Homo sapiens: one gene and its partner. The protein of the gene in region 1 interacts with the protein of each later gene in a biochemical or structural test. Each region holds a gene or a part of one and is shown on either strand. Other genes may lie near its edges.

Region 1 (3,412 bases):
CCAGGACAGTATGGCTTCAAATTGTGTCAAAGGAGAGCTTCCAAATCTTTTATAATATATATCCCAGCATCCAGATACAAATGGTAATATTCACGGCACACACAGAAGCAAACAGTAGGCTACTTCTGGCCCTGAGGTATCTTGAAGGGTTGAGGGGGATCAATATCTTGGCTCATCTGTACTGTGACAGATTTGGAAGATCTAGTCTAACCCATTTTTTCCCTCCCCTCCCCCTACCACCTTCAGAGAAGCTGCTGCTGGCTTGGACTGCGGTGGGGCTGCCCCTCCAGGATGTGTCTGTGGCTGCCTGCAATTTCTGTCGCCGTCCTGTACACTTTGAGCTCATGAGTGAGTGGGAACGTTCCTACTTCGGGAACATGGGGCCCCAGTATGTCACCACCTATGCCTGAGAAGCCAGCTGCCTAGGATTCACACCCCACCTGCGCTTCACTTGGGTCCAGGCCTACTCCTGTCTTCTGCTTTGTTGTGTGCCTCTAGCTGAATTGAGCCTAAAAATAAAGCACAAACCACAGCATGTGAAGCCTTTTATTGGACAGGGAACAGACAAGTGCATTCTGACTCCCTCAGACAAGTGGCAGATCTATGAGGTAACCATAGGTCACTTGTTGGTCACCATTCCATTTTACCAACAGGGAAACAGAATGAGAAAGAGGAAGGAAATGCCCAAAAACTACACAGTGAGTTGCAAAGAGCTAGGATACTTGGCAGATTTATTTGAGATGGCTCTTCTCCAATGGTTTCAATAAAAATCCAGGGATTGACGCTTCACTGGTAATCCGGGCCCTGGAAATCTGGGCCCAGGGTAGCCCCTGAAGCCAGGAAATGAGTCAGCCCTAACCAAATTCCCTAGAAAGGAGTGGTTCCCCAAAACCAAAGAGGTATTTTCCATAAGGGGATATGGATGTCTTCCTCAATCCATTATCCTCTCTCCCTCCCACGGCATCCCACAGAACAGGATTTACCAGTCCCATTCTTTTTCTTTTCTTTTTTTTTTTTTGGAGACTGAATTTCACTCTTGTTGCCCAGGCTGGAGTGCAATGCATGATCTCAGCCCACTGCAACCTCCGCCTCCCAGGTACAAGCTATTCTCCTGTCTCAGCCTCCTAAGTAGCTTGGATTACAGGCACGCGCCACCACGCCCAGTTAATTTTTTTGTATTTAGTAGAGACGGGGTCTCACCATGTTAGGCTGGTTGCGAACTCCTGACCTCAGGTGATCCACCCATCTCAGCCTCCCAAAGTGCTGGGATTACAGGCGTGCACCACTGTGCCTGGTCTACCAGTCCCATTTTCAAAGGTGAGAAGAGGCTTGGCTAGAGCAAGCACTGTGTTCAAAGCAATGCTCCCACTTTCCAGGTCACAGTATACAGGAAACATTTCCATGGCACACTTAGGGGTACTAATGATACTACTTGCTAAGGAGGCAATCGTCCCTGAAACTTGTGTGGTCCCAGGCCCTGCCTGGCAACTCTGAGGGCTGAGGACCGTTTCTTTCAACCCTGTAACCCACTGTGGCAGCTGTGGGACGCACTAGCTGGAAAGCTCTGGTTTAAGGCTACACAGCCCACCTTCCTTGCTGATTTCACCTTAGCCGTACAGGAAATTCCTACAACTGAGCAGAGAACCCTTTATGGTGAGCACTGCTGCTCACGCCTCACTATTCCCTCCTCCCCCCTCCCTCCTCCCCTTTCTCTGGGAATTACATCATTGGGCTACAGCCAGCCGGCAAACCAAGTATTGAGATAGCTTCTCTGACTCAACTTTATGGAGTACCTCCACAATGTCCAAAGTGCAACCCTGAAACAAATACACAGACTTTATTTATGCACAAATACACTTTCCAGCAAAGACAGAAGTGATTTAAAATCACACAACTTCCTGGGGCAGCTAGTGTCCGTGTACTTCGGACAGGAAGGTGGAAAGTGGTGTAAGGGGCTGGGTCACAGGATTAAGGCACAAGAAGCTCACCAACAAGGAGCTAGGTAGGAAGGAAAGCGAGGAAGAGAGGGCTTAAAAGAGGAAGAGAAGGGTAGGAGACTTTGAGGGAGAAGCAGGAGGCAGCTCAGGGAAGGGGAGCTGGCCTCAGATCATGTGCAGGGGTGACCATGCCAGATGTCCCCAGGCCTCCATTGGTTCAGCTGGGCCTGCTCCAGAGGAAGAAGTTGCACCGGGAGGAGGGGTCAGTGGGAGGACCCCGGGGCCTGGCACACATGTAGAAGCGGCGGCCCAAGTTGGGTCCTGGCTTCTTCACAGTACGCATCACACATGGCTCCCTGTGGCCCCCACAGAGGGGTGTGCGCAAGGGCCCCGCCAGCACAGACTTCCAGAATGAGGTCCGTAACTCCTTCTCATCTTTGGCTTCTGAAGTCTTGGCCTGCCCCTTCACCACTTTGGCCACTGCCTTCTCTTCTGGAGTCTTCGGGGTCATGAGGGCGCTCATCAGTGGTAGGCTAGGCAGCTCTATGTCAGGAGAGGCTTGGGGACAGCTAGGGGAGGGCTGAAAGTAGCTCTTCAGGTTTTTCTGGCCTCTGCTAGAGCCAACCTGACTGGGCTGAGGCCTGGTTGAGCGCACTTGGGCTTTGTTTTGGCATGTCTGTACCCGGGTTTGATTGTTGTGCTGCAGCGTCGACTGCTCCAACACAGGACTTTGTTCGAGAGGAACTAGGAAGCGAAGGATCTTGAGCTGGGTGCCTGCAAACTCAGGGAGGAAGCGGGTGCACAGAGGTGGGCACTGTTTTGCAGGCACAGAGGACACACTCAAGACTGCACCCACAGGGCAGTGGTCAGAGCCCATCACCTCAGGCAGCAGGAAAGAGGCCTGAAAGGTGTCTATGACCAGGGTCCTGTCCCCCAGCACATAGTCAAGCCGGGAGCCATAGTTGAGATGGCGGGCGCCAGTGACTGCTGACCAGCAGGTGAAGGCCCCCTCCTGCTTTGGTTGGAAGCAGCGGTAGCTATCGATGAAGGGCCCTACATGAGAGGCAGACTGGCACCCCAAGTTACTGAGCAAGCTGTCCATCCACTTGCGCCCTGGGTCCTCTTCAAAGCATTCCTAGGTGAGGAGGAAAGGGGGTTGGAAGAGAGAGAGACAGAACTAGATACCTAGAACTGGAAGGGACTTAGACTAACTGCTGCATTTTGCAAATAAGAAAATTTGGTTGTCCCAAGAGGACTACTGCTCAAGGTCACACAGTCCGGAATTGGCAGAGCTGGGATTCTGATTTTCATCCTTACTGATTTAAAAGACCATGCTTGTTTTTCCCTCTGCACGAGCTTGCATTTGTCTTGCATTGGTCCGTCAATGGCAAATCTGAAAGTTTGCTTACTCAAAGCAATTCCTGGAACTGCTTTTCAAAAGGATGGAAAACAGGAAGTTAAAAGTGTTTGCCTCT
Region 2 (3,814 bases), on another chromosome or scaffold:
GAAGATCTGTGGCTGCTGCTTTTCAGGATTTGAAGTAACAGGCATTTCATCTCAGCTTAAAAGCGGCCTCTTTGGTTCTTAATACAAACAAAACAAAACGAAAAACACACATACATAAAACCCAAACCAACAGGATGAGTGTTATCTAGAATAGTAGTAACCCAATGTTCTATCTGAAAGTTACTTGGCATGTGTGCGTTCTCTGTCTTCAAGTCCATTTTGGGGCAAGGTGGTGGCAAACTGCACAGCCCTTGATTTTCAGGGACTGACTCCGCAATCAGAACCATGCAACAGAAAACGGCCTATTACTGACTTTCTGCAGGCTTTGCTCATGGAATGGGCCTGCGCTGGTTTTTGATGTGAGAGCCAACTTCATTCTGCAATGACAGAGTTAAGACTGCCCGTCAAAAAACTATTTTCTTTTGTAATCCCAGCACTTTGGGAGGCCAAGACGGGCGGATCCCGAGGTCAGGAGATCGAGATCATCCTGGCTAACAGGGTGAAACCCCGTCTCTACTAAAAATACAAAAAAATTAGCCGGGCGCGGTGGCGGGCGCCTGTAGTCCCAGCTACTCGGGAGGCTGAGGCAGGAGAATGGCCCGAACCCGGAAGGCGGAGCTTGCAGTGAGCCAAGATGGCGCCACTGCACTCCAGCCTGGGCGACAGAGCAAGACTCCGTCTCAAAACAAAAAAAAAAAAAAAGGCAAAAAAAGGCCGGACGTGGTGGCTCACGCCTGTAATCCCAGCACTTTGGGAGGCCAAGACGGGCGGATCCCGAGGTCAGGAGATCGAGATCATCCTGGCTAACAGGGTGAAACCCTGTCTCTACTAAAAATACAAAAAAATTAGCTGGGCATGGTGGTGGGCGCCTGTAGTCCCAGCTACTCGGGAGGCTGAGGCAGGAGAATGGGGTGAACCCGGGAGGCGGAGCTTGCAGTGAGCCGAGATCGCACCACTGCACTCCAGCCTGGGTGACAGAGCGAGACTCCATCTCAAAAAACAACAACAAAAAAAATGTTCTTTTTGGTTCCATATACCTGCAAATAAACTGAAAACCAATGAACTGTACACTTAGGTAAGTGAACTGTGGTATGTGAATGACATCTCAAAAAGGCTGTTAAAAAATGTTCTGACTTTATTAGCTAAAGTAAAAAAAAAAAAAAAAATCACAAAAAAGAGGAAATAAAAGTTCCTGTTTTGCTGCATAAATCATGATGCTGATGTCATCCAGAAGAATTATGTCTGTTCAGGAGGACTTTGCAAGGTTTGTGCAGATGCAGTTTAACCTGGATTTTTGTGGTCATATCTATGGAGCTGGGATCAGGAGCCAGGTCCCGGGGCCAGAGGGACTTTGAGAACTCACTTGGAACAGGGGCTGATCACAGTCGGCGTGGGTGGGTAAACCAAGGCAACATTTACTCGCTCGCTGCCGTTCTTGGGGCAAATGATCTCTGCCACTCCTTCCGGTCTGGGCTGACTCAGCAACTCCCCTGTAGGAGGAGAGAGAAAAACGTGTTAGGGAGATGTGCACTAAAAATGGGCTCATTTTACAAAGACAGCACTGCCCGGGGATGGGGGCAGGGGGAGAAGGGCAGAGGTGAAGCAACGAAGGATGTGAGAACAAATGTGCAACCAAGAACAGCAGAACTGCCTGGGCGCCGGCTCCAGCGCCTAAATCCTCCTCTGCGTCACCGTGGAGAAAATTTTCATGGTTATGGCAGGAAGGCCCACACTAGACAAAGACAGCATCTGTCACTGCTCTGCTCACCTTCCTTTTAACAGACTGACTCCAGGGATCTTTATCTAGATATCAACGACTGAGCCAGAGTCCCCAGAGCCCACCGAAGCAAGGGCTGCCAAGGAGGTGTTCATAATTAGGATTTGGGGCAGATGGGACTCAAGCAGACCACAGCAACCATTCAACAAAGCCCTATATAAATGATCTGGAAACACAGCAGACTAAAAGTGTTAAAAACACAAACAGCCTAAGATCAGCCCAGCCTCCTCTGGGCAAGGGGATTGCCCTGATAGGTATGTGTGAAGCAGATGCACGACACAACACTATCTAACGAGTCTAGCAAAAACACATAATTAACCTAATGGATCACCACAATACTTAAAGGAACGCTATTACTCTGCATGCCCTGGATGTAATCTCTCTTCAACTAGATCATTACATCTCTAAAAGCAGTGATGACTTCCATTCTCTCATCCATATACCCAGGGCACCCTGCCCTTTCTCAGAGAGTACTCAAGAAACAGCTCCTGGCTGCAGATGGGACACATTATTGTTCAAACTGCCCTACTTAAACCTAGGAACTAAATTTTTTGTTGTTGTTTTGGAGACAGGCTCTTGGTTTGTCACCCAGGCTGAAGTGCAGTGGCCTAATCACAGCTCTCTGCAGCCTCAATCTCCCAGGCTCAGGTGATCCTCCCACCTCAGACTCCCAAATAGCTGGGACCACAGGTATGCAGCACCACATCTGGCTAAATGTTAACCTTTTACTTTATTTTTGTAGAGACAGGAGTCTCGATATGTTTCCCAGGCTGGTCTCAAACTTCTGGCCTCAAGCAATCCTCCCACCTCAGCCTCCCAAAGTGCTGGGATTACAGGTGTGAGCCACCATGTCTGGCTTCTAGAAAGTCAATTAACCAAATCAAGGATGTGAAATGTACACCAACTGGGGAAAGACACTACTGCAATTACAACTTCAACTCTCTGCACCAACCACTTCTACTGCTGACTTGAAATTCTAGAGACTCCGGGCTGGGCGCGGTGGCTCACACCTGCAATCCTAGCAGTTTGGAAGGCTGAGGCAGGTGGATCACAAGGTCAGGAGTTCGAGACCAGCCTGGCCAATAAGGTGAAACTCCACATCTACTAAAAATACAAAAATCAGCTAGGCATTTGTGGCAGGTGCCTGTAGTCCCAGCTACCCAGGAGGCTGAGGCAGGTGAATCGCTTGAACCCGGAAGGCAGAGGTTCCAGTGAGCCCAGATTGCGCCACTGCACTCCAGCCTGGGCGACAGAGTGAGAATCTGTCTCAACAACAACAAAAAAAAAAAAAGAAAAGAAATTCTAGAGACTCCAAAGAAGAGCAGTCCCCCCTTATCCCTCAGACATGCGTTCCAAGACCCCAGCGGATGCATGAAACCGAGGACAGTACCGAAGACTATACAGACTATGTTTTTGCCTATAAGTAGATACCTATGATAAAGTTTAATTTATAAATTAGGCACAGTAAGAAATTTACAACAATAAATAGGACAATGATAATATACTGTATTAATAATTAAACTTTTATGAATATGGTCTCTCAAAAACTATTATTATGCTGCATTCACATGTATTTGGACCACAGTTGATTGCAGGTAACTGAAATCACAGAAAGTGAAACCATGGATAAGGGGACCACTGTATCTGCTGACGTATAATGATATGAAATTCCTTTGCTTCAAAGTACTGTATTTCTGGCTGGGACAGTGGTTCATGCCTCTAATCCCAGCACTTTGCGAGGCAAAGACGGGTGGATCGCTTGAGCCCAGGAGTTCAAGATCAGCCTGGCCAACATGGTAAAACCCAGTCTCTACTAGAAATACAAAAATCAGCCAGGCATGTTGGCGGGCACCTGTAATCTCAGGTATTCGGGAGGCTGAGGCATGAGAATCACTTGAATCCAGGAGGCAGAGGTTTCAGTGAGCTGAGATCAGGCCACTGCACTCCAACCCGGGCGACAGAGTGAGACTCCGTCTCAAAGAGCAAAAGAAAACAAAAACACCGTATTTCTAAATGTCTCATCCCCCGCAAAGGCCA

The links.
Region 2: the proteins of APEX2 (region 1) and MFHAS1 form a complex in vitro, tested with the Homo sapiens proteins (one large-scale study listed by BioGRID and IntAct).

What each region holds. Positions count from the first base shown.
Region 1 is NC_000023.11:55,006,178-55,009,589, reverse strand, and holds the end of APEX2 (DNA-(apurinic or apyrimidinic site) endonuclease 2), read right to left. Parts: intron 3,073-3,412; coding exon 2,155-3,072; 3' UTR 533-2,154; downstream 1-532. Other genes in the region: ALAS2 (5-aminolevulinate synthase, erythroid-specific, mitochondrial isoform a precursor), read left to right, coding at 247-410. UniProt on the Homo sapiens protein: Functions as a weak apurinic/apyrimidinic (AP) endodeoxyribonuclease in the DNA base excision repair (BER) pathway of DNA lesions induced by oxidative and alkylating agents.
Region 2 is NC_000008.11:8,796,002-8,799,815, forward strand, and holds part of MFHAS1 (malignant fibrous histiocytoma-amplified sequence 1), read right to left. Parts: intron 1,491-3,814; coding exon 1,364-1,490; intron 1-1,363. UniProt on the Homo sapiens protein: Probable GTP-binding protein. Functions in innate immunity and more specifically the inflammatory response as a regulator of the Toll-like receptor TLR2 and TLR4 signaling pathways.